Linked DNA regions of Homo sapiens. The protein of the gene in region 4 interacts with the protein of the main gene of each other region in a pairwise test. Each region holds a gene or a part of one and is shown on either strand. Other genes may lie near its edges.

The links.
Region 1: the proteins of TBC1D25 (region 4) and RAB2A interact in binary tests that used the Homo sapiens proteins (3 or more experiments, as listed by UniProt).
Region 2: the proteins of TBC1D25 (region 4) and TRIML2 interact in binary tests that used the Homo sapiens proteins (3 or more experiments, as listed by UniProt).
Region 3: the proteins of TBC1D25 (region 4) and KCNIP1 interact in binary tests that used the Homo sapiens proteins (3 or more experiments, as listed by UniProt).

What each region holds. Positions count from the first base shown.
Region 1 is NC_000008.11:60,617,980-60,624,165, reverse strand, and holds the end of RAB2A (ras-related protein Rab-2A), read right to left. Parts: intron 5,587-6,186; coding exon 5,518-5,586; intron 3,493-5,517; coding exon 3,397-3,492; 3' UTR 522-3,396; downstream 1-521.
Region 2 is NC_000004.12:188,092,601-188,099,628, forward strand, and holds part of TRIML2 (probable E3 ubiquitin-protein ligase TRIML2), read right to left. Parts: intron 6,576-7,028; coding exon 6,435-6,575; intron 5,680-6,434; coding exon of another isoform or gene 5,605-5,679; intron 4,747-5,604; coding exon 4,724-4,746; intron 4,562-4,723; coding exon 4,461-4,561; intron 423-4,460; coding exon of another isoform or gene 382-422; exon of another isoform or gene 190-381; intron 1-189.
Region 3 is NC_000005.10:170,717,018-170,724,045, forward strand, and holds part of KCNIP1 (A-type potassium channel modulatory protein KCNIP1), read left to right. Parts: intron 1-1,740; coding exon 1,741-1,865; intron 1,866-3,303; coding exon 3,304-3,373; intron 3,374-4,740; coding exon of another isoform or gene 4,741-4,815; coding exon 4,816-4,886; intron 4,887-5,695; coding exon 5,696-5,803; intron 5,804-7,028. UniProt on the Homo sapiens protein: Regulatory subunit of Kv4/D (Shal)-type voltage-gated rapidly inactivating A-type potassium channels. Regulates channel density, inactivation kinetics and rate of recovery from inactivation in a calcium-dependent and isoform-specific manner.
Region 4 is NC_000023.11:48,535,437-48,542,730, reverse strand, and holds the start of TBC1D25 (TBC1 domain family member 25), read right to left. Parts: upstream 3,018-7,294; 5' UTR 2,934-3,017; coding exon 2,811-2,933; coding exon of another isoform or gene 2,799-2,810; intron 1,447-2,798; coding exon of another isoform or gene 1,399-1,446; coding exon 1,289-1,398; exon of another isoform or gene 1,277-1,288; coding exon of another isoform or gene 1,218-1,276; intron 1-1,217. UniProt on the Homo sapiens protein: Acts as a GTPase-activating protein specific for RAB33B. Involved in the regulation of autophagosome maturation, the process in which autophagosomes fuse with endosomes and lysosomes.

The DNA.
Region 1 (6,186 bases), on a different chromosome or scaffold from region 4:
AAAATGCATTTTAGGGACACTTTGTATGTTTTTTGTAAATTGCTCATTTTCCTCCATTTTTCTATCAGGAGTTTGGTGCTTTGTCCTTCAATGTTTAAGAATTGGCCTCATAATTTTGTAAAACTAATTAATACTAATATATAGACTGGCACTTAGTTTTTGGCCAGGCATGGTGGCTCACACCTGTAACCCCAGCACTTTGGGAGGCTGAGGTGGGCAGATGACCTAAGGTCAGGAGTCTGAGACCAGCCTGGCCAACATGGCAAAACCCCGTCTCTACTAAAAATACAAAGTAGCCGGGCGTGGTGGCAGGGACCTCTAATCCCAGCTACTTGGGAGGCTGAGGCATGAGAATCACTTGAACCTGGGGAGGTGGAGGTCACAGTGAGCCAAGACGGCGCCACTGCACTCCAGCCTGGGGGATTAGAGTGAGACCTGTCTCCCAAAATAAACAAAATAAATAAAATGAAGTTCTCTGTCGTGACTTCAACCAAAAAATAATAATACCTAGTACATCCGAATGCAGTATGAGATGATCTACTGTGGCGTTAGGCTTTATTTTAATGTAAACATAAAGCACACATCTAAACTCTGAGAAATACAGGTAGATATGCTGGTTTACCTATTTGTATAGTCAATTCCTGTTTATTATGAAACAGCGTTATCTCTTTGTGTATCTTTTAGCTCATATAGTCAAACCCCATGCTGCCAACCTCAGGACTAAATAAACTGAGATGGGGCTTTACTATCTATGACAGAATAAATGTTTAAGGTGTTGCAAAGCCAGACATGAATCAGTTTTTCTGAGTGATTGGAAACATTTTGGTACGATTTATATCCTAACTCTTTTTGACCATTAGCAGATAAATAGGGACTATTTTCCTGCTAACAGGCTATTTTAAAATATCATTAAAAACAAATTGTATGCAGTTGTATATCCTGTTTCAGTTGTATATCTAATTATATGCCACATTCTTTCAAAAAATTGGCTTTTCATTCAGTTGTCTTAAATTTGCAAGACGAATGGTAACAATGTCTTTATGAAGATCACAATTTTGAATGTTACATGTTGAGTGAGACATTGAAAGCTGTGTTTATTTTTTTCAGTGACTGATTTTCTATGTCCATAGATGCTATAAAAACTGATCGAAGATCAACTAAAAATTCAATTACAATATTACAAATTCAACTGCAGGTACCAATATTACATTATTTGACAGGGATAATAAAATGAGCAAAGACTGGAAATCACAGACAATAACATTGCTTTCTCAATTAACAGAAAGGATTCATAACATATTCCTTAACGGTAGATGTGATTTGTAGAGAATGTGGAAAAGAACTATTGAGAAGTCCACCTGCTGCCCCAGACTGAGGCACATTAGGGTGGTTGTGGGAGGAGTTATATTTGAGGGTTCCATTTTTCCTTAGGGTATTAAAATGCATGTCCTGGTTTGTTGTTTATTTGCCATTAAGTTCTCTTCTTCAAATAAAAGAATTAGGGGAGAAAGTATGGAAAAGAAACGCACTAAACTTCTGGAAAAATTAACAGAAGCTTAAAAATAACAATTTCCAAAGAATCATTCTCTTCTTGGTATAGAGCAGTACCTGTCCTAGTTGCCTTAACTTTTTGTACTCACTGGTAAAGACAGTGATTAGTAAGACCAGTGAATTTGATACAGCCACTTGAAAGAAAAAAAGGCTGTACTACAAATACCCATGAAAACAGATTTTCTCTCACCCTTCCCTCTGCCCTCAAGGAGACAGTTAAAACAAAACTATGACAGCATTTGGTGATTTCCCACAAGAGTACTGTCAAACCTTTGAGAGAGTACTGCTGAATCTTCAGGGAAGACCTGTAGAAAGTTGAAGGCCATGAGCGAAATGAAAGTAGTTAGTTTCAGAGTTAGAACTTCTTTATGCTTTCTTTCAGGCATAAGTGCTTTTGTGCTAGTTCAGGAGAAAACACTTGCTTACACTGCTTACACCATCAACAAAAATAATTTCAGTATGGTGAGATTTGTCGCATTTTAGCAAAATTTTTAAAAAGGGTTGAGTGTTAACCATTCTGACCCTTTTAAAAAACATGCTTAAACCCATGTAAAAGCTGTAAGTGGACTAAAAATACATTAAAAAAGAGGTGGTCATAATAAAAAAAAAGAACACTTTTATACATAGGATTTTATTTTGCACTGCTGTAACAATTTCATTATAGACCAAGGGAGAAAAAGAAAAAAAGGATAAAACCACCACACTGAGTAAATTACTAAAGCTTTTCTACTTTGTAACAGGATTTTCCATCTGATAGATTTATTGTCATATCCCCTTCAAAACAGACAAGATGCTCACCATATTTTAAAGATTATAGAGGTTGCCACTGAAAGAAAAATTTTACACAGTCACTGTACATCAAGGTTGAAAAACTGTCCTGCATGAAAAATATACTTAGAAATCATGTGAATAAAAGAAAAAAGAAAACATTATTGTGTTTAAGGAAAGATTAAAGTCCTCATAATGTGCCATCTAAATGTGGATACTCATTCTTCTTGGAGTCGCTAAGATGTAGAAATTTCTTGCTTCTGCCCTTTTCACTCATTATACTGTGTTTTTTCCCAACAGTATTCATTAAGGCAAACAAATCCCTTTCTGAAGAGGTCTTAAGGAAATTGTGGACAAAGCAAACTTTTGGCATTAAAACAGGTTAACATATACAAAGCCTTTGTAATATACATTAAGCATATTTTTCTTGGACTAGTGACAAGAAAAGATGAACATGCTTGTTAACAATGTCAAAAAGTTTAAAATTCAGTGTCCAAGCAATTCCTAACAATGCTTCTGTAGCTTTAAGCTCTAAACAGTATAGAATTTATGCAAATGCATTAAAGAATTCAAGCTTGGCAAATTACACCCAAGCAGGTTATTAAACTATATATACAGAAAGTAAATGATAAATACAGAATTAAAAGAGTCCTTCTGTTTCCTTATAGCCGTGAAAATTGACAAAGTTTCTGAGGACAGTTCTATAATATTAAACATTAGGTAACCACAGATGTTGGGAAACCTAACTACACAAACCGATTTAAAATACTCAAGATGACTTTGTAGTGTTTAATACAATTCAGTTCGTAGTTAAGGGCACAAGACAACATTTAACAAAAATAATCACATCAATTGACCTAGAAATCAAATGCAAATAGATATGAATACAATCTCCAAAATCTGTCTTTTAAGTGAACATTAACCATTTATTCAAAGTTATACAAGAATTTGACGGATTAAAGTCTTCTGTGACATAAAGCCATTTCAAATAGTTTCATGTCTCAGCTGAGCAGGAGGAGAGGGGGTGAAAGAATAAGTGAGTAGGCCCCGTTGGGCAGCTAGACAGTAAAAACAGACTCAACAGCAGCCGCCCCCAGCCTGCTGTCCTCCCTGATTGCCTGCATGTGTTGCATTGGTAGCAGCATGCTGAGGGCCAATTTTAATGCCATTTGCCTGAAATAAAAGAGAACAGAACAATAAATATGACCAGACAATATAGTTTAACTAATTCTTAAAAAACTCATTTAATTCTTTATGATACAATTTTATCAAACAACTGAGAAAAATACAGCAAGTAGATTTTAGCAACAATTAAAACAATATCTCCTAAGGGATGTTCCTTCCTTTTAAAAACACTGTGGAAATGTTTCTGAAAATAATTCTTTATCATACCAGGTACGGGGTAAACAGTTATTGGATAATGCTGCTTTTCAGGAAATTCTCATAATGCAGAAATCATTTAAAATAATTATTGCAAGTAATCTTTAAAGCATAAAAATACCCAAAGCCCATGCTGCTTTAATACAACGTAAAATCTTTTCTCTAGACAGTGTTTCTGTTCCATGTTGAATCAGCTGTACAGGCTAAGGGCATATGAGTGTTCTGTGTCATCAATAATTTCTATGATCCCCAAAGACATGGCAGCTTGCCAAGAACCCACACACAGAGTAGTTCTTTCATTCATCAAACTCACACTTATGTCTTAACCCTCACTCCCTCAAGTGGATTTTACCTAAAAATACAACACTTTGAGAAAAGTAATACAGTAGCTTCAGAAATTAAGCTCTTAAGGAAACTTTACGTCACAGTAAATCTCAGATTTATAGTGCTTGGCAGTTGTTCTGCAACAGTAGTAGCCTTGGGGTTTCTGGCACTAGCTCAGTATTGACAGCAGCTGATGTGGTTTCTTTTCGCTCTTTTGACTCCTCTTTAATAAAAAGCATGCCCTATGGCTCATTGATTTTGCCCCCTCTGGGCTGGTAGCAACTTCTTGAGGAGTCAAGGAGTCAGACTTGGCATTAGGCCAAATAAATAGCACGGCCTGTTGGCTCCCAACAGCACATTACAATCAAAGCTGCATAAGGCACAGTAAAGCAGTCAGCTACTATATGAAACCAGACAGAAACAATGAATGTGCCCTTTTAGATAGAGGCCCAATTACTGTTCAATTTATATGGCATTAGTCTCTGAATGGTGTCACCTTTAAACTAACTCAAGAAGTACCGTCATATAAGCCTAGAAGATAGGATTTAGAAACTATATTACTCCAAATTAAACAATGAAAAAATCATGTACTTTTTGGAAACCTTAGGTAAACTGCTGTTTGTCTGAGCAGAGACTACTGAAGTAATAGAGAGCCTCATTTATGTATAGGATGAGAGAGACATACATAATGGCTTCCTAACACAATGCTTTTCTAACTGCAACTGGGGAGAAACCAGGGCTTTTCTTTCAGAAGCCAGAAATCTTAATACAGAATGGCAAAAATATTTATGTAAGAATAAGTAGGCTACATCCACATAAACATTTTGAAATAAATACAGATAAATGCAGAGTGGGGATGTGGGTCAAGTGATGATCTTTGGTGAACACTCTGAATTAGATGCTTCAAAGCTTTACATTTTATCCTAATCATGTTGACCAAAACAGGATCAAAATAACATTACAAAAAACCCTATGCCAAATGCCAATTTTATATATATATATATGAATTTAGTCTCCTGAAAACATGCTATGCTATATTGGGAGTAATTTCCAAATTTGGTATTTCCCTCTTTCCTGCCAGATAACAGAGAGAGCATCTTGCATTAGTACATAGTACATGCATTTATATACCAGAACATTATTCCCAAAGCAGATGACACCATATGGTCATGTGGATAAAAGTGGATTTTCTTTTCTCTTTGGGGGATTTATATTATTTTGCATTGCTTGCAATGAATGGATAGGGCCACTTACTTTAATCCATTTCCATAGACAAAGTGTTGCTCTACTAGAACATAAATATTTAACTACTATACCACATATACCAATTTTTCAGTTGGATGACTGTAAACTAATGGTGTTAACTGATTATCATGATTGATTTTAGGAATTAAAAAAATTATAAAATAATGAATTATAAAATAAAAAATATAAAATAGTAATCAAAAGTGAACTCTAAATTAATATTGACCAACAATATTTATATGTATATACCTCATTATTAATGTCAAAGACTCCTTCTTGAATTTTTTCATAAATTTCTTTTGCTGTATTAATAAATGCCTGAAATATAGAGAAATTGGTTCATATTATATAAAACCAAAGCAGTAAAATAACATTATATATGCTCTATAGAATATCATAACATTCAACATATGAAAGTCAATCGACGTAATACATATTAATAAAGAACAAAGATATTAATAACATATTAATAAAGAACAATCGATGTAATACATTATATTAATAAACAAGCCCTCATGATCATCAATAGACATAGAAAAAGCATTTGACAAAATCCAACATTTCATGATAAAAACACTCAAGTCGAAATAGAAGGGAACTCCTCAACCTGATCTAAAGAATGGCATCTAAGAAAAACTACATCTAACATCATATTCGAAGATGAAGGCTGAAAGCCTTTCCCCTAAGATTAAGAACAAAGGATGTACGCACATGCTAATTAGCATTACAAACAGCATTATTCACAACAGCCAACAAGTGCAAACTACAGAAATGTTCAGTCAATAAAAAACAAAATTTGAGATATTCAATTAGTAGAATATTATTTGGCCATAAAAAGGAATGAAGTACTGATTCATGCTACAATGTGGATGAACCTTGAAAACACTGTGCTAAATGAAAGAAGGCAGACACAAAACG
Region 2 (7,028 bases), on a different chromosome or scaffold from region 4:
CAGGAGTCGGCCAGCAGCAACTCATTCGTGGCCCTCCCGATGCCGTACTCTACACATCTTAAATATCCCCACAGGGTGACATAGAGGCCTGGAAATTGCTGACAACAGGCCCTGGACATCAGGCATTACATCAGATAATTTATCAGCGGAGGATGGAACACCTGTGTGGACCCTCCAGAAACTCACGCTGAGAACACGCAGGCTCAATGAATTCCTCACACCTGCATGAATACGTCTTCTTCCTATCTCTGACTGTTCCTCTCATCTCTTTCTGCCCAGCCTCTAACTATTGTGATCTTTCAGGGCTTGGTCCTGGGACTTCTTCTTTCAAGTAGTATATTCTCCTTCACTGCCCCCAGGTAACTGTGCATAGCTTCAGTTTTAAACATCTTCTCTGTGTTTGTGACTCGCTCCATAAACAGCTAAATACCAGTTGGAAAAAACACAGGAATTTCAAACATAACACACCCAAAATGGAACTTCAACGCCAGCCCTCTGCAGTCTCTACTTCTCAGTTCACAGCTCCCTCATTGCTTCAGTTGTCTAAGCCATAAACCTGGAAGGCCTTTATTTCCTACTTTCTGTAATGTGGAATCCAGCTTAATTTCTATTATTTGACTGAAGTAAATTTAATGAACTTAAATCTCTGAATTTGAAGCCCAATTCACATTATTAGGGTGGTCTCAACAGCTACACGTCTTGAATTTTTAAAAAATTGTCTGAGACTCTCAGTATTTCCAGGAGACTGGCAGAAACAAATGCAAATTATCTCTGGAAAAACGCACAGCTGTGGCTGGGCACGGTGGCTCACGCTTGTAATCCCAGCATTTTAGGAGGCCGAGGAGGACGGATCACTTGAGGCCAGGACTTTGAGACCAGCCTGGCGAAACCCCATCTCTACTAAAATTACAAAAATCAGCCAGGCCTGGTGGCGGCCTGTAATCCCAGCTACTCAGGAGGGTGAGGCAGGAGCATCGCTTGCATCTGGGAGGCAGAGGTTGCAGTGAGCCGAGATCATGCCACTGCCCTCCAGCCTGAGCAACAGAGCGAGGCTCATCTCAAAAACAAAAACAAAAAAGGTTGAAGAAACAACAGGAGTATCTCAAGAGAAAAAGAACTTGATAAATTCAACATTGATTCATAAAAATTCTTAGTAAACCAGAAATAAAGGGGGACATCCTCAATTTGATGAAAGGCAGCCATTAAAAAAAACTATAGCTAGGGCCAGGTGCGGTGGCTCACGCCTTTAATCCCAGCACTTTGGGAACCTGAGGCAGGCAGATCACGAGGTTGGGAGTTCGAGACCAGCCTGACCAACAGAGTGAAACCCCGTATCTACTAAAAATACAAAAATTAGCTGAGTGTGGTGGCACTCAGCTACTCGGGAGGTTGAGGCAGGAGAATCGTTTGAATCTGGGAGGAGGAGGTTGCGGTGAGCTGAGGCTTCGCCATTGCACTCCAGCCTGGGTGACAGAGCCAGACAGCATCTCAAAAAACAAAAACAAAAACAAAAACAAAAACAAAAACAAAAAACACAAAACAACAACAAAAAGCGCTATAGCTGTATCAGAATTTAGAGTGAAAAGACTTAATGTTTTCTTTCTTCCTAAGATCGAGAATAAGCAAGTGTCCACTCTCACCACTTCTGTTCAACACACTGCAGGTCTGAGCCAGTATAATAAGGCAAGAAAAATTCAGAAAAGGCTTACAGACTGGAAAGGCAGAAATAAAGCTATCTATACTCATATACTGCATGACTTTGTAGAAAATCCTGAAGGATCTATTTATAGAAATCCACTGTCTAATGAGTGAGTTTTGCATAGTTATAGGGTACAAATGTCAATATATATAAAACAATTCCATTTCTATATACTTGCAATGAACTAGAAATGAATGAAATGTCAATTAGAAATTGATATTTTAAAATACCGTTTACAGTGGCTGTAAAAAACATAAAATACTTAGGGATACATCTCCAAATACATATAACATTTTATGCTGAAAGTGACAAAACACTGATGAGAGAAATCGAAGACCTAAATAAATGGAGATATTTTGTATTCCTGGACTGAAAGCACCAAATATTGTCAAGATGTCAATTCTCCCCAAACTGATCAACGGATTCAATGTAATATGAATAAAAATCCCAGCGGTCCATTTTGAAGAAGCCAACAAGCTGATTTCAAAATTTATGTGGAAAAGCAAACAACCTACAGTAGCCAAAACTATTCTGAAAAAGAATAAATTTGGAGAATGCACAGTACCTGCTTTCAAGACTTCCTACAGAGTTATCAATCAAGCCAGTGTGCTATTGGCAAAGGGAAAGAGTCAACCATCAATAGACCTATTAGAGTCACAAATAGACGTGATCGCATATACCAGTTGATTTTCAACAAAGGGGCCAAGTAAATTGAATGGACAAAGGTAGTGTTTTTAACAAATGAAACTGGAACAAATGGATACATGTGAGTCAAAAAATAAAAATAGAAGGTGGGGGGAGGAGAGGGTTTGCACCATTCTGTGAACTGTATACAGATATTAACTCTCAGTGGTTCATAGGCCACAATGTAAAACCGAAAACCATAAAACTTTTGGAAGGAAATCTTTGTTGGCTTTGGCAAAATTTCTTAAATAAGACACAAAAAGCAGAAGTCATAAAAGAAAAAACTTGATAAATTGAACTTCATCAAAATGCAAAACCTCTACACTTCAAAAGACAGTATTAGGAAAATGAGAATACAAACCATGCTGGGAGGAAATATTTGCAAAATTTATCTGATAAATGAATGCTAAACAGAACATATAAAGAAATTATAAAACTCAAGAGACATACAACCCAATTTAGAAAAGGGGTTTGTACATGTATTTCACCAAAGTTGAGATAGAGGGAAAACAAACACATGAAAATATGCTCAGCATCATTAGTCATTCTGGAAATGCAAATTAAAATGACATACCACTACCCATCTATCGGGTCGGATGTAGTAAAACAAACTGACAATACCAAACCCTGGTGAGAATACAGAGTAACTGAATCTTTCGCACGTTATTGGTGGGAAGGCAAAATGGCACAGGCAATTTGGAAAACAAGTTTGGCAATCCCACCCTTAGACAGTCAATCAAGAACTATGAAGCTGTGCCCACACAAAAATCTGCTGCTAATATTTACAGCACAGAGCTGGAAACAACCCATGTCCGTAGAATTGCAAAAGGATAAGTAAATTATGGTATATTTATACAATGGAATATTATCAACAATAAAAAGGAACAAACTACTGATACACGAAGCAGCCTGGACGTTCTATATGTCAACTGCAGTATGCTGTCAGCCTCGAAAGGCCACACACTGTAGGATTCCATCGATAGGACATTCTGGGAAAGGCAAAGCTATAAGGACAGGAGATATAAACCCTTTGTTATACATGCTGAATTTCTTCCCCAGAAGTTTTAAATTTTTAAGCAGTGGAATCTGCCTGCAATCATGTTTCATGGCTGGGGAACTGGTAAAGAATCTGCAGCCAGGCGTGGTGGCTCACGCCTGTAATCCCAGCACTTTGGGAGCCTGAGGCGCGTGGATCACCTGAGATCAGGAGTTCAAGACCAGCCTGACCAACATGGTAAGACCTCGTCTCTACCATAAATACAAAAAATTAGCCAGGCGTGGTGGCTCACGCCTATAATCCCAGCACTTTGGGAGCCCAAGGCGCGTGGATCACCTGAGATCAGGAGTTCAAGACCATCCTGACCAACATGGTAAGACCTCATCTCTACTATACAAAAAATTAGCCAGGTGTGGTGGTGCATGCCTGTAATCCCAGCTACTTGGGAGGCCGAGGCAGGAGAATCACTTGAACCCAGGAGGGGGAGGTTGCAGTGAGCCAAGATCGCACCACTGCACTCCAGCCTGGGCAAAGTGAAACTCTGTCTCAAAAAAAAAAAAAAAAAAAAAAAAAAAAAAGATTTTGCATGGGAAGAGCTTTCATATGAGATCATACAGTTATTTTTTTGATCCTTATCTAATATGTATAACATATTAAGCTCTCCAGTCTCCTAAAATTTTTATTTATTTATTTTAAGACAGAGTCTCATTCTGTTGCCCAGGCTGGGGTGCAGTGGTGTGATCTCAGCTCACTGCAATCTCCACCTCCTGGGTTCAAGCAATTCTCCCACCTCAGCCACTCAAGTAGCAGGGACTACAGGCACACGCCACCACAACTGGCTAATTTTCGTATTTTTTGTAGAGATGGGATTTCACCATGTTGGTTAGGCTGGTCTCGAACTCCTGGCCTCAAGCAAACCGCCCGCCTTGGCCTCCCAAAGTGCTGGGATTACAGGAGTGACCCACTGTGCTGGCCTAAAATTGTTAAACTACTGGAATTTGTTTTCATTTATGGCAGGATGGTCACCTGATTCTCAAATGCAGAACAGTGCCCTGTGAGTATTCACATGTGTCAACTTACTCTGGAGTACTCTGAACATGCTGCTGAGTCCTCTTATGTGGCATAAACTCAGGTCTGTGATATGAGCGGGCTCCAGATGCTCAAGCAGCAGTGACTTGCTCCTGAAGAGAAAGGACAGCCTCAGTCATCTGCACAGACCACAGGCCCCTTAGTCTACTGGATGGATCCCATTACATCCTACCAGCAAATGCAATCTCCCTATCTCAATCAACATCTTACTGGACTCTGATTCTCACCCAATTGTATCCAAAATGAAAACTCACCTTTCTAAAGAGTATTTTGCATTCTAAGGGAAAGAAAAGAGACCAGGTTACTACTGGGTTTTTGAGCTGTTTTTGCAATCTGTGCCCAGGAAAATATCCTCTTACAATGAACTCAATTTCCATGTCATTTCTTCAACCTCATAATGCTAGTTATCAGATGAACAAATTCTAACATGGAAACAGAAAAAGTCAGAAAAATGCATGAAATCATTTTGTCGTAGTCCCAAGGGAAAGGTTTTCTATCCCTCACCCCAGGCATCTTACTCAGAGCCATCATTTCTCAGTCTTCAGACGGGAGCATCTATCTGCTTTCCATGCAGGGGGTGGCCAGAGTTCAGCAGGTGAAGGGGCCACTGGCTGGGAGGGCAGTGGGAGCCAGGCAGAGCCACACCTGCCTGCATGCTCAAGAACTGAGCTGCTTCCTAAGGATTTACCTACAGACGCTTTCCAGATGAGCGCATTCATTGCAATTATAAGCCCAGGAGAGGGATATGGACAGTCTTAAAAAGATAGTAAGGCCAGGCGCGGTGGCTCATGCCTGTAATCCCAGCACTTTGGGAGGCCAAGGTGGGCGTATAACCTGAGGTCGGGAGTTTAAGACCAGACTGACCAACATGGTGAAACCCCGTTTCTACTAAAAATACAAAAATTAGCTGGACATGGTGGTGGGCGCCTGTAATCCCAACTACTCAGGAGGCTGAGGCAGGAGAATCGCTTGAACTGGGGAGGCGGAGGTTACAGTGAGCCGAAATTGCGCCACTGCTCCAGCCTGGGAGATAGAGCGAGACTCCGTCTCGGGGAAAAAAAAAAAAAAAAAGGTAACCCACTTTCTGAAAGGCAACGTATGTTACTATACAAAATTCAAAATATGCAATACTTACCATAGACTGAGTAGCTTCTGCACAGCAGAAATTCATTTCTCGCAGTTCTGGAGGCCGAATTTCAAGATCAAGGCACTGGCAGATTCAGTGTCCGGTGAGGGCTCCATCCCTCCTAGGTAGCCTCCATCTCCAGCCTCACAAGCTGAAGGGGTGAGGTCTTCCTCGGCCTCTTTTATAAGAGCCCTAATCCCATTCACAGGGGCTCTGCCCCCAGGCCCCACTCACTACCCAAAGGCCCCACCTCCCAATACCATCGCCTTGGGGGAGAGGATTTCAACATATATATTTTGGAGGGACACAAACATTCAGATCATAGCAGATAATCTCACCCTTGTTTCAAGATTATCACAGATGACTATACATTTATTAATTTTTTGCCAGAAAGTCTGTGAATGTTAGCAACCACACATGTATATGTGTGTGTATATATACTTATTATCCAAAGATCAAACAAAAAGCAGTCTGCATCTTTCTTTTTCACTTAATGAGTGCTTGAAATACTGTTAGTGCCTATAGAGCTGTTTTATTCTTTATGATCACAGAATATTTCATTGCATGGAGGTATTAACCACATTGTGTCACATCTCAACCCTAACTTACTGCTGATAATTTTAAGGTGAGAATTCATCTCATGAAGCAGCTCCACACTATCCCACAAAGCTATGACCATTCCTAAAGCTTTTGGCAGCTGAAAGAAAGTCATGTAGCCTTCTTTTGTGGTTGAAGATCATTGGATATTGTGTTCTGACAGCAACCCCTAATGAGTACTGTCCACTTCTCATTTCTCAAATACTGGAATGAATTTTATTTTCTTTTTCCCAGCATCTTACCTTGAGCAATGCCAAGGTGCCTTCCCCACACTTTTTCTCAAGCTCCACGATGAGCTTTAGGAGGCTGCGGACCTGTTCAGAAGCCCTGGCTTCACTCTCCTTCAGTTTCTCCATGTTCTCTCTCCCCACACGGCCCAGTCTCTGCAGAAGCATTTCTTCGTTACTATTCAACAACCTCAAGTTCAGGAACAAGAGTTCGGTAACTTCTCCTATAGATTAATTCAACCATGTTTTTAAAAACCTGCTTTTCGGTTGGGCGCAGTGGCTCACGCCTGTAATCCCAGCACTTTGGGTGGCCAAGGCCGGCGGATCATGAGGTCAGGGTTTGAGACCAGCCTGGCCAACATGGTGAAACCCAGTCTCCACTAGAAGTACAAAAATTAGCCAGGCGTGGTGGCGGGTGCCTGTAATCCCAGCTACTCAGGAGGCTGAGGCAGGAGAATCGCTTGAACCTGGGAGGCAGACGTTGCAGTGAGCCAAGATCGTGCCACTGCACTCCAGCCTGAATGACAGAGCAAGACTCCAAATCAAAAAAAAAAACCAAAACCAAAACCAAAAAAAAAAAAACCCTGCTTTTCTGCCTGCTACCCCAGG
Region 3 (7,028 bases), on a different chromosome or scaffold from region 4:
ATTCCTAAGGGGCAAAAGGAGGGATGTGAAAACCTCTGCAGCCCCTTCGGAAGTTTCTTGTGAATATATGCACAGATAAACAGATGTGCATTTTAAAAATAAAAATGCTTTTAGATCTAATGCTAGGAGATTCAAACCAACAATTAATTTCTCTGTTAAAATGGGTTAAAATAGATGTAAAATATTAATATGTATATAAGCATTCTGAATTAGACTTATGTGAATTTTTCTCCTTTTCTTTCTTTCTTTTTGAGAATAAGCCCTTTCATTTACGTAGAAATGCTTCAGCGTTTAGATAATTGCTACTTATCTTGTTAGCTACAAACACAACCATAATTAAAGGCTCTGTAAGAATTATGAATTCTGGGGAAATTGGCCACTTGTCTCTGTGGCGTAAACAGTATCTAATTTATAACAAATCATCTGCCTTAGTCCCAGCAGGATAAGGTGATATGTATTGCCCAGCACATGAGAAAGATGGCAATTAGGAATTGTTACCAAGTTACGGGAGCCTCACACGAACATCCATCACCTTTGGGGATATGTACAAGATACAAACTTAATTTGATGGATTCCTTTTGTATTGGGATCAAAGTCTCAAAAGGGAAAGTGACAATTTCAGGGAAAATCTGGTGCAATGAGACCAACACTGATGAGAGAAATGCACACAATTTAATACACCTGCTCACCTGATGTGGCAACTCAGCCTGTGCTTGCTGTGGGTTGCCACAGGATGAGACATGGTCTGTGCATATTCCCAGCAGCCACCCATCTCATCACTATTCTTGCCAGCCCAGATTTACAGTTGTTCAATAGATGGATTTGGTAATATCTGCATGACAACAACAGGCAGAGAAGGTTAGATGGCAATTGATTCTTGATTGGTGTAAGTTTATAGAACACATTCTGGCAGGGCCCAAAGGAAATCACTCACCTACCCCTCTGTGATGGTAAAACGTTGAAAATTCCACGGACTTGGACCTTGTGATCCTTCAGTGGAAGATGGGCAGATTCCTTGCTTTAATTGACAGACACTTTCTAAATAACTAATGCAATCTTATATTACATTATAGTCCATAAGGGAGACATACTTAAACTACTACTTACAACAACTGTTTTTAGAGCCTTTCAAATGGTTTGTACAAAGTAGCTCCCATTTAAGATATTTTCCTAGTATTTAAGGCTATCTAGTAGACATTACAAAACAATACGCTGTAAATACATTCAGATTTTTATCAGTAATACTTAACATGCCGTAATTTGAACTTTCTGCTAAATCATGCTATCCATTCCTAGTTGGCCCCAATGGTGAGAGTTTACTGTTTCTTTAAATAATTTTGTTTCCCTTTGCTGTCTAGAGGTGTTTATCATTCTGCTTACTTGCCTGTGTCTCTGGAATATTCAGAAGGTTCCATGGGAAACAATTTGAATATGCAAAGAAGTTATTTTTAAAGCAAGGAAAATGTTTTCATATGGATTTATTTTGAGCACTTCTGCCTTTGCCTCCACTGGGAACATGTTTCTCTCCAACGCCGAAGCCCCCTCCCTGTGTGGTGTTTGACGCAGAGGCTGACAGGGCAGGGAAGTGGGGTTCAAGATAGGAAGGCCATTGGCAGTGTGACCCCAGCCCACAGTCCTAGATCCCAGGTCGTGACACCACTCTTTTGACAGCCCAGATTGTTACCTAACAAGAATGACTCCCAAGCTCAACCATTCCAATGCCATCTCCTCTGGTTCCAGATAAGATTGAAGATGAGCTGGAGATGACCATGGTTTGCCATCGGCCCGAGGGACTGGAGCAGCTCGAGGCCCAGACCAACTTCACCAAGAGGGAGCTGCAGGTCCTTTATCGAGGCTTCAAAAATGTAAGACCCGTGCACGCTCTGAAGGCCTGGGGGGGGTTCCCACGTGAGGCTACACTCTCCCCAATGCCAAGGGAGCTCATAAGGCGTTTCCCATATGTGAGGCTGTACAAGGAAGGCCAGCTCTATAAAGGGGGCATGAGAGGGAGATCACCTGGCTAGAAAGGAAGGCTCCAGGCGAGGATGGAGCAACCTCAGGAGACAGTAAACGGCCAACTGCCCAGAAATTTCACAGGGTGGCACATCCTCAAGGAATTCACCCTGGCCCAGGGTCAAGCCTTAGCCCTTAACATAATCATACCTTCCAACCTGGTGGTGCCCCCACAATAATGGGATTTGGCCCTGCTGACTTATGCTAACCAGGCTCACCGAGACTGATGTGTAAGCCGAATGTCGGTGTATTAATTTACCTTGGGAAATGGAACTGACAGTGGAAACAGACACTCCTCTCCCTTCGCTGGGACCCGCTCTCCTTGGAAGCCACATGGAAGCCAGGTTACAATCAAAAGTGGAGTCAGAGGACGGGAGTTCCTTGTTTAGTTGTTACTTTAAATACATTAATGTGTTCCTGCAGTCTCAGGCCAGTTTGAGAGCTCTCAGATACAATCCTGGATATTAATTTATTTTTTAAGTTTAACTCTCAGAGTGCAATCTTATTCCCAAATCCTGGAGTGGTGTGGAGTGGGGTGGGCTACAGCGACATGCACCTGGTCACCCTCCCTCCAGGTGCAGTCTGTAGGTAGAGCTGAGCTGGGTCAGTTCCAAACTGACCACAGCCTCAATGTTCTCCAAACTGCTGACCCACAGGGATTCCAGCCCCTCCTGGGAGTTATCTGACAGGTGCTGGGATGCCTCTTCCTTCCACACTAGCCTTGACTGCACATGCCAAGTGCCCAGTTTCCTACCATTAGGGCTTCTTTCCTTCGATGGCAGCATTAGCAGTGGGCAGCCGAGTTGGAGAAGGATCCTGTGGGAAAGTTTTCCAGGCAGGCACTGGGCTCAGAGGGAACAGCATCCAGAAAAGAGAAGAAATCTACACTGCTTGGCATCTACCATGGACTCAATACCACCTAACATAGGTTCATAAGATACCCTTGGGGAAGTTATTGTTACCCCCATTTTACAGGTAAGGATATTGAGGATCAGAGACTGGCTTGGCCAAAGTCACAAAGCTTAGTATTGGCTGAGCCAGGATTTAAACCCAGGTTTTTCTGATCTTAAAGCCCCAAATCTCTCCACCTCACAGTGCCCATTCTCTGACAATGTCTCATCATTTTGCAAAGCAGCTCCAGTCCTGAGATGGCACTACTTGGGAGAAGTGGAAATGCACAGGTCCCTGTCCCTGGGGATCATGAGGAACCCCAGACACCAAGGCTGGGCCCAGTCTTCTCCTAGTGCTGGCCCTCAAATGCCTCCCGCTGACTCTCTCCCCTTCCCACAGGAGTGCCCCAGTGGTGTGGTCAACGAAGACACATTCAAGCAGATCTATGCTCAGTTTTTCCCTCATGGAGGTGAGTCTGACCTTGAAATCTATCTTGCCCAGCTCCCTCTCTGGTAAGCAGCCTTCCCTTCCTCCAAGTCCTCTCTTCCTTGCCATTTGCTTCCTTCTCGAGGAAGAGACAAACTCAGGGCAGGACACCTCCCTCATCGTGAGAGGTGGGAGTCTCCAAAGCTTTAGCAGGAAAGAACTCTGAAAATGAACCCACCCTGGAAGGGGAAGAAGGGCTGATAATGCAACATCACAACGTCTCAGAACAGCTCTAGAAAGCAGGTATTATAATCCCAGATGGAGTAACTGAGTTTCGGGGAAGATAAGCAGTGTACTCAAGATTGCACAGCTGGTGAGTAGCAAACCAGGATTAGATTCCATAAGGGTCTGAAACAGGTTTTGCCATGCTGGCACCACCATTGTGCAGGGCACTTTTGAATCTTTTCCTTAAAATAGCTGAGACAAGCTGGAATTTTGTAAAAGAACTTCAGTAAATACCGAAGACTATAAAAATAAACTAATTGAAAAAGAGGCAGGAAACATAAAGTTGTGCTTATTAAGCCAGTTTACAAGTGTGCCAGGCCCACAACAGCTGCTCTGTTGCCCTGCCCGACTCCTGTGGGAACCAGCTGTGTCCCCATGGGCCTGGGACCACATCGGTGACTCCTCCTGTGGCCTCCATGTGTCACATGCCACTTTGCATCCTGTCACCAAGAGCTGTCTCCTGCAAGACATCTTCCCTGGATCCTGACAAAATGCAAATCCAAGTATTCCAAACACTTCTTGGGCCCTGTTTCTCATGGGCCTTTTTGGCAGCAGACAGATGCCTTCCTTGGTGTGTGGGGCCCCTACCCAGATCAGGTGGGGGAGGCAGTTTTGTCCCATGCAGGCCCCAGAATTGCAGTTTGCTGAGTTCCACTGAGCCACTGTTTATTGAGTTCTCACTGTATGCCAGGCACAGCTGTAGTTTAAAATACTTTTTAAAAAATTTCAAGAGATAGGTCTTGCTACATCCCATTGTAGAGAGGTAGGAAAGGGAAGCTCAGAGAGGTCGTGCTTGATGCCCACAGTCACATAGCTTATGTAGTACAGCGGCATCCAAGTTCAGGTCTCTCTACTCTGGAGTGAGTGCTCATCCCAGGCATTCATGGCCGTTCAGAAGAACATTGTCATGCAGTCACTGTGCCATTCATACACCAACGACTCCATGCATAGACAGGCAGGAGAATGGTTTTCTCATGATGGCTAGAGGGAGGGGCAAGGGCTCATCTCACTTTTTGCTAGATCTAACTTCACACCCAAACCCAAAGAGTTGAGTCAATGGGCCCCACTCCATAATTTTCTCCTTTCCATCACCCTAGCATCACTCTCCTCTCTTTCTTGTCGAAGCCCTGCCTTGTTTGGAAGGTTCTCCCTGTGTGGAATTCCTGCCCCCATCACCTGCCCTCCTTTTCTGCCTTGTAGATGCCAGCACGTATGCCCATTACCTCTTCAATGCCTTCGACACCACTCAGACAGGCTCCGTGAAGTTCGAGGTACGCTCATCTGGGGTCCACTCTAGGGGTCCTCTGGTTCTGCATCACCTCCCCCTCTAAATCTCAAGGCATTGGGGGAAGGTCTGGACCATCAAAAGCTCTCAGTCAGACCAAAGACATGTTTATCCATTTGTAAGCATTTCCTAAAGATGGGGAAAAGCAGCAGCAACTTTCCCTGGCCTGCAGGAACTCAGGGACTCAGGGGACTAATAACAACAGTGTATGAGCTTCCGGGCACACTGCTTCCCAGTGGCAGCCCCTGTACTTAGGGCTTTGTATGTATTAATTCATTTACTCCAATTCCCACAATAACCCTATAGGGTAGGGTTTTATTATTGATTACCTTTTTACAGAAGAGGAGAGTAAGGCAAAGAGAGATAGAGTAGTTTTCCCAAGGTCAAAGAGCACATAAATGATAAAGGATGGATTTGAATGTAGGCAGAATGACCCTCAATACAGACTGTTCCTACAGTCCACGTCCTCAGCCACTAGACCATACGGCCACTGGGATGATAGACAGACCACTGCAGCCATGGATAAGGCAAAAACAGGGCTGGCTGTGTTGATCTGTGTCTCTCAGAGCTCCATTCTTCCTCAAGGGGGCACCTTGCAAAAAAAAACAAAAAAATGGGGCAGGGTAGGGAACTGAAGGCAGGAGCTCTTCACAGAGCATAGCCACATCCTCCAGGCAGACAAGAGGACGCAGGAGGCACCATTCTGTGAGAGTATCACAGTCTGACCCAAAGACACAGCTTCACACTGTCTGATGGCTTGATGGTTAATGTCACTCTGCCTTTTCCCCTTCTCAGGACTTTGTAACCGCTCTGTCGATTTTATTGAGAGGAACTGTCCACGAGAAACTAAGGTGGACATTTAATTTGTATGACATCAACAAGGACGGATACATAAACAAAGAGGTAAGTGAGCTGGGGCCAGGGGTGTGAGAGGGCTCCAGTGAAGGTAACTAACCCAACAGAAAACAGCCCCAGGCATGAGGATAGCACTGTCTGAATGAGGCAGGCTCTGCTTTGGGGCTAACAGAGCTGGTCCCTGGCAAAATAAAGAAGGCCTCCCTCATTGCCCTACCCTGCCCTGTTCCCAAGCGCCCAGAAAGGATTAAACAGATTCATTCTCACTGGGTCACCTAGATTCAGTAGATATTACACAGTGGATAAAAATGACTTGTTTCAGTGTGAAGAGTTACTCTTCCCTAGGGAACCTGCATTTGGGAAGGTTAGGAGCCACAAGTCAAAGCTAAAAGTTGAAATGGTGGAATTGTAGGCAGCACCTAGAATAGAAAAGAAAGATTTTTAAGGAAGAGGAACCTACAATTGGGTCATATTGGCCTTAAACTATTTTGCCTATTAATACAACCGCCAAGGGGGTAATGGAAGGTACAGCTGTCTTTACAGAAATTATCACAAATAATTTCTGAATCTTCACTGCTTTGCACTTTTAGAACCTCAGAGGACATGTCTCTAGCCAGTGAAATACCCTCAGGTCTATCTCAAAACTCACTTTGGTATCCACTGTATCCTGGTATCTCAGTGGAAGCTGGAAATTGGCATCCTGTAACACTCCACTTGCTGAGCTCCTGTGTGCCAGGCACGGTGCCTGGAGGTATAGATATCAGCACCAATCTTCACCTCAACCCGGCAAGCTTCTCTCTGTAAGCTCAGAGAGTTTATCCAACTTTCATTCCTCATTCATTTAGTCATGTTTTTAATTAACACAGATTTGAAGGCTTATTAGGTGTTCTAGGTGCTGGAGGTAAAGAGGTGAACAATCAGACTAGGCCCCACACTGGAGCAGCATAGAGAGATGGACAATAAACAGGCCAAAAAGGAATCAGCAGGTAGAAGATATTTTGGCAGGGAAGGTTAGCAAAGGCCTCTCCAAGGAGGTGTCGTCATACTGGAACCAGTTATACAAAAAGCCAGGAAAAGTGTTCCAGGCAGAAGGAACAGCCACTAGAGAGGCTTTGAGGCAAGATAGAGCTTCATGTGTTTCAAAAACAGAAAGGCTTCAGATGGCTGCAGATGAAGGTATGAAGCTGAAGACTAGTGCAGGATGAGCCTGACAGGTCAGCAGAGTCAGATGGTGGAGGGCTAGGGTAAGGGGCCCATCCATATTCCCCTGGGA
Region 4 (7,294 bases):
AACACTTTGGGAGGCCGAGGTGGGCGGATCACTTGAGATCAGGAGTTTGAGACCAGCCTGACCAACCTCATGAAAATTAGCTGAGTGTGGTGGTGCACACCTGTAATCCCAGCTACTCTGGAGGCTGAGGCATGAGAATCACTTGAACCCGGGAGGCAAAGGCTGCAATGAGCCAACATCGGACCACTGCACTCCAACCTAAGTGACAGAGTGAGACTCTGTCTCCAAAAAAAAAAAAAAGAGAAGATCAAAAAACTATCTGGGACTGGGTGCGGGGGCTTACACCTGTAATCCTAGCACTTTGGGAGGCCGAGGTGGACAGGTAACTTGAGGTCAGGTGTTCGAGACTAGCCTGACCAACATGGTGAAACCTTGTCTCTAATAAAAATACAAAAATTAGCAGGCGTGGTGGTGCGTGCCTGTAATCCCAGCTACTTGGGAGGCTGAGGCAGGAGAATCACTTGAACCCGGGAAGCGGAGGTTGCAGTGAGCTGAGACTGCGCCACTGCACTGCAGCCCGGGGGACAAGAGCAAAACTCCGTCTCAAAAAAAAAAAAAAAAAAAATTATCCGGGCATAGTGGTGCATGCCTGTAGTCCCAGCTACTTGGGAGGCTGTGACAGGAGAATCACTTGAACCTGGGAGATGTCACTGCACTGCAGCCTGGGTGACAGTTAGACTCCATCTCAAAAAAAAAAAAAAAAAGAAATAAAAAGGAAAATGCATTTAACACATTTATCCTACCAAACATCACAGGTTAGCCTAGCCTACCTTAAACGTGCTCAGAACGCTCACATTAGCCTACAGTTGGGAAAATCATCTAACACAGAGTCTGTTTTACAACAGTGTTGAATATTTCATGTAATTTATTGAACACTGTACTGAAAGTGAAAAGCAGAATCGCTGGGCACTTGCAGTACAGTTTCTACCAAATGCGTATCGCTTTTGCACCATTGTAAAGTTGAAAAATCCTAAGTCCAGTTATTGTAAGTTGGGGACTGTCTGTAAACTGTAATAAAAGTAATATGAATGTGGTCTCTCTCTCTCTCTCAAAATATCTTATTGTATGTAATATTTGCAGACTGAGGTTGACCATGGGTAACTGAAACTGCAGAAAGCAAAACCACAGACAAAAGTAGACTACTGTGCTCCAAGACATGCATACGTGGCTGTTCACTGTGGGATTATTTGTAGTAGTAAAATAAACAAAAACCCTACCAAACAAAGGCCAGATAGCCACTGTAGAGGTCGGTGGCCCACTGGCCAGTCCCCAGCATCTTCCCACTCACCCACTCAAATCAAAGGCTCGGATGAGGATGTGCTGCAACACGTCGAGCGAGGTGATCTGGGGATCTACAGCAAAAGAGCGGAACTCTGGCGGCAAGAAGCTCTCACATTTCTGGGGAGAGAAGACATGGGGTAGGCCACCAGGGGCCCCATCACCATGCTGAAGAGTGAGGTGCAGAGTGGTAGAAGGCAAAGTCAGAGAGGTGCCAGGGGCCAGATCAAGGCAGGTGTTCTGGACCACAGGGTCCAGTGAGGAGGAGGCTACTGCAAGAGTTCAGGCCCCCAATCCTTCTTCTATATCCCTTCAACTATGGTTGCCAGAATCACCGTGTCCAGTCTGGCTCCTGTTAAATCAGTCCTCTATGGTGCTGTAACCAATCTAACACATCTACCTACAACACTCCCCTGCTTCAATCTCTTCAATGGCAACCCTAGAGTCCCAGCAAGCGGGCCTATGGGGCCCCAGCCAGCCTCTCACCAGGTTTTTTGAACTTTACACTCTAGTAGTACCAAACTGTTAGAAGTTACCTTGAAACCATCCTGACTCCAGGCCATTGATTGTGCTGATCCCCTGTCTGGAACATCCCTCCCACTTTCTTCACGTGGTTCACGCCCAGCTCAGGCATCATCTTTTTTCTGAATGTCAAACTTCTACCTTAGAGCTCTATTACACTGAAGTGATGTGTGGACCCTCTTATCACTGCCAGTGCCACTGGTTGGTCGGAGCCACCATCATTGTTTACTGGAACTATGGCAACAGCGTTCTTCCTCAGCATACACACCAAAGGCCCTTGGCGATCTGTCTCTGTCTTAGCGCTCTGATTCACCTCCTACCACTCTTCCCCTCATTCTCTCCACTCCAGCAATCAGGAACCTACGGGAACATGCCAGGCTCATTCCCATCCTCTAGTCTTTGCCCTTGCTATTCCTTCTGCCTAGAATACTCTTCCCTTCTAATATGCACATGGCTGACTCCTTTTATTCGGGTCTCTGCTCCTTCAATACCTCCTCTGGGGATTTCCCTGTACAACCTTGGCTAACGTGACTCCCTATTTCATAACCTTTTTCATTATTTTAGTGTCCGAAGCATCTCATTTCTTTAGTTGTCTCCACCCACGAGCCTGTCAGCTCATCAAAGTGGGAACTTGCACATAAGTGCACTCTCAACACATGGGTTGACTGACTCCAGAGCCAGCACCTTCTCATTCCTCAGAGCCCCACCCTCAACTACTGCGGCCCCTCCTCCAGCCCCATAGCCCCTCCCCTTTGTCTATAAGCTCCACCCATTCATCCCATAGACCCCCGCCTCGTCCCTCTATTTTCAGTCCCACGCCCCAAGGTACGTCGCTAACGCTCTCAGGCTCTCAGGCCCTCCCTACCCCTCGCCATCATCACTTGGCCCTCAAGCTTCGCCGCTCAGGTTATGTCCGAAATCTCAGGTCCCGCCCTCCATCCTATGACAGCCACCGCCTCCCCCTCCCCTGGGATGCCTCGGCGGCTGGGCCGACTCACCGCCAGCCTCACCTTGACTCGGACCCGCACCACCTCTCGCTCCTCCTCCTCAGCGGCCGCCGCCGCCTGAGCTCCCACACCGGGCGGGGGCGCTCCGGAGCCAGACAAGTCCGAGGCCCCGGAGGCTGTTGCCATCCCGCCGCCGCCCGTCTCAGGGTGACGGCTGACCGTTGCCCCCCACCCCGGCGCACACTCTACTGTACTGACGCCCGCCGCCCCACCTCGTGCCGGGGCGCAGGCGCAGAGGGCGCCGCGCGACCCTACCCCCCACCGTCCCTCCCACCTGGCCCTGCCTGGAGGTCGCCTCTGCGCCTGCGCCTAGAGTGCTGTTGCCAGGAGCCCCGCCCCCAAAAGTCGGGCATTTTGCTCTATTTCAGCTAGCGTGCAGACGCCTACTGAGGCCCCGCCTCCCCCAGCCCCGTGGTTTGGTTGTTTTGACAGCATACTTCCGGATTCACGGAGGTGTTAAACTGACGCCTCGTTCGCCAAGAGAAGGGGGCGGGGAAAGGAAGAGGCTGCGTGATGACGTCAGGCCCACACCCCGCCTCAAGTTGCCTCACGCCTCTGCTGGCAGATGATGTCATCTATTTCAAATACCAGTGGCCCTCGCTTCAAATGAATCCACTGAACAGAAAAAAATCCTTTTTTTTTTTATTTTTTTAGGCAGGGTCTCGCTCTGTCATCCAGGTTGGAGTGCAATGGCGCGATCACAGCTCACTGTAGCCTCAAAGTGAGCTATGATCAAGCGATCCTCCTGCCTCAGCCTCCCAAGAGCTGGGACTACAGGCGCGTGCTACCACGCCCAGCCAATTTTTGTATATCTTGTATAAACAGGGTTTAGCTGTGTTGCCCAGGCTAGTCTCGAACTCCTGACCTCAAGTGATCCACCCGTCTCGGCCTCTCAAAGTGTTGGGATTACAGGTGTGAGCCACAGCCCTCGGGTAAAGTGTTTTTAAAAATATACTCAGCAGGGTGCAGTGGCTCACGCCTTATAATCTCAGCACTTTGGGAGGCCGAGGCGGGCTGATCGCTTGAGCCCAGGAGTTCTAGACCAGCCTGGGCAACACAGCGAGACCCCGTCTCTAACAAAAAATTAAACAATTAGCTGGACGTGGTGGCGCACACCTGCAGTCCCAGCTACTCGGGAGGCTGAAGCGGCAGGATGGCTGAGCCCAGGAAGTCAAGGCTGCAGTGAGCGGTGATCACACCACTGCCCTAACCTGCACCACAGAGCAAGGCCCTGTTTCAAAAAAAATTAATAATTTATACCCTGACTTAGTAAGGTCAGATAAAACAGGAAAATGGTTTACACATTGTGAAAATTCATGGAGATTTTGTACACTGATGATTTTTGTACTTCCTGTATGAATGTTATACTTCATTAAATAATTTGCCCCCAAAAAACACTATTATGCTCTCTGGAGTTCTAGCTTTTTAGTTTGCCTTTGTCTGAAACTTGACGAGATCATACTTTCCCAAGTTTACACATCTAGGAGGCAAATTTCCAGGTAATTCAACTCCAGGAAGGACACTAATGCTTCTAATTGAAACCCAGGAAGAAGTTAACAATCAAGCCTTCAGAAGGCAGAAAGCGAGACAGACCCAGGGAGCTCAGCAGCATATCTCTAAAGCTCTGCCATTATTGAACCAGCTCAAAGGATCCCCGGTCTTTGTGTCCCTTTTCCAAGTTTCACATTCTCAGATCTTGGGGAATCACTGAATCACTGGAAAAGCCCTCTGTCCAGCTTGGTCTAGAGATTTCTTTGAAACCTGACTAAAATGTTGGTACTGACTGCCAGGGACCAGTTGAAAGAGAAGTGGCCAGGCTCAACTACGAACCAATCAATGGGGCCCAAATGATACCATCTATAAAAGATCAGCTTTTTGGGGTCCCAGAGCAGGGTGGATAATGGATCCGGAAGAGCAAATGGGGAATGCCCAGCAGAGCATGCAAAAGGCTCAGCAATGTGCTGAGCACATAGTTAGTGATCAAAACAATGAATGGAAGAAGCCAAGAATAAATGAAGAAAAATTTTAAAAAATAAACTGAGTCAGGCACAGTGGCTCACACTTGTAATCCCAGCACTTTGGGAGGCCGAAGTGGGAAGATCGCTTGAGCCGGGGAGTTTGAGACCAGCCTGGGCAACATAGGAAGACCCTGTCCCTACAAAATTAAAAAAAAAAAATTAGCTGGGTCTGATGGTGCGCACCTGTGCTCCTAGCTATTCGGGAGGCTGAGGTGGGAGGATTACTTGAGCCTGGGAGGTCCAGGCTGCAATGGAGTTGTGATCACGCCACTACACTCCAGCCTGGGTGACAGAGTGAGAACCTGATTAAAAAAAAAAAAAAGCCCACAAAACTTTGCTTTTGTCTTACCTAATCTTCATAACATGTTAAGGTTGGTCCTGTTCTTAAATGGTGTATGTCTACTAGATATTGGCTGAATTATTGAATATATCTTAGACTCTTCTGAGAAACTTTATATGTGGCAAAATGCAAAAAGGCAGTCTTCCCACTTAATTGCACAACATCCGTGCGGTTTGGACAAAATACAGGCTGCACTTACAAATGTTATTTCTGGCCGGGCACAGTGGCTCACGCCTGTAATCCCAGCACTTTAGGAGGCCGAGGCGGGCGGATTACGAGGTCAGGAGATGGAGACCATCCTGGCTAACACGGTGAAACCCCGTCTCTACCAAAAATACAAAATAATTAGCCAGGCGTGGTGGCGGGCGCCTGTAGTCCCAGCTACTCGGGAGGCTGAGGCAGGAGAATGGTGTGAACCTGGGAGGCGGAGCTTGCAGTGAGCCGCCACTGCACTCCAGCCTGCACTCCAACCTGGGCAACAGAGCGAGACTCCGTCTCAAAAAAAAAAAGTAAACAAAAAACAAAAACAAATGTTATTTCCAACAAAGGAGTCTTGTAAGATACTAGCACTCCAACTATTGTGTCCGTGTCATATGGACGCAACCCTCAAGGTTAACTTTTTAGGTAAGTCTGCAATTCTATTTTGGTGTCTTTTAAGACAACATGTTGCCTTGGTATTAACATTAAATAGATATCTCTATTTTTAGAAGGTATAAATAATGGGGATTTTCTCTGAAAGCCAGAAAAGGATTATTGGCATGTCTCTCTTGCCCCATGTGTTTAGAGTCAAAATCACTTATAGCACTGCTGGATTTTCTGATGGAAACAAGGAGTAAGAGCCTGCTTTTCATTTATCATAGGGTGGGATGTGCAAACCATTAGCCTGGAGTTTGGAATCGATCCTAAGGACACTGGGGCAAAGGTTTAGACAGGGGTATGATGTGGTCAGATGCCTCTGTCTTGGTCCTGGGGAGAGCTTTGGATGGAAAGATACTGGAAGCAAGGAGATCAAAAAGGAGGTCCTTGCCATAGTCCTGGGGAGAACTTTCTTTTTTGTTTATTCATTCTTCCATTCAACAAATATAAAGTATATGCTAGGCAGTCTACATAAATTAATTCTTATAATCTGCATAAAAACCCTATGAGGTAGTATCTTAGTCCATTTTTCTGTTGCTATAATCAAATACCCAAGACTGGGTAATTTATAAAGAAATTTGAGAGGCTGAGGTGGGAGGATTGCTTTGAGGCCAGTTCAAAACAGCCTCAGCAACATAGCAAGACCCTGTCTCTACAAAAAAATTTAAAAATTAGCTGAGCATGGCAGTATGCCTGTAGTACTAGCTACTTAGGAGGCTGAGGCAGGAGGATTGCTTATGCTCAGAAGTTTGAGGCTGCAGTGAGCTGTGATCATGCCACTACACTCTAGTCTGGGTGACAGAGTGAGACCCTGTCTCTAAAAACAACAACAACAACAACACCCCCCCCCCACCAAAAAAAAAAAAGAAAGAAAAGAAATTTATTTCTTACAGTTCTGGAGGCTGGGAAGTCCATGGTCAAGGAGTCACATCTGGTGAGGGCCTTCTGCTGGTGGGGCCTCTCTGTGGAGTGGCGAGGCAGAGCAGGGCATCACATGGTAAGGGTGCTGACCTTGCTAGCTCAGATCTGTTTCTCCTCTTAGAAAACCACTAATGCCCCACCCTTATGACCTCATCTAATCTAATCCTAATTACCGCTCAAGGTCCCATCTCTCAAATACCGTAGTCAGATTTCCCACCTCCTTAATTCTGTTAAAAAAGAGATTTAGTTTCAACATGAGTTTTGGAGGGGAGAAACATTCGAACCATAGCAGGTAGGTGTTATTACTCTAAGCATTCTACAGATTAGAGTACTGAAAGCCAGGGAGAAACAAGCTCAAGGTCAAAGGGGGTAGTGTCACAGAGAGTAGGCAGTGCAATGGATGGAACTTGGGGCTATGCCTGTTGTGTTTGAGGAAAAGCAAGGAAGTCAGCATGCCTTTAAGTAGAGTGAATGATAGGTGAGTGACAGCAGACGAGGTGAGAATAGAGTGAGATCATGCAGGGCTTTGACCTTAACAGTGAGGCATTTCTCCAAAGCTATATACTGTAGGC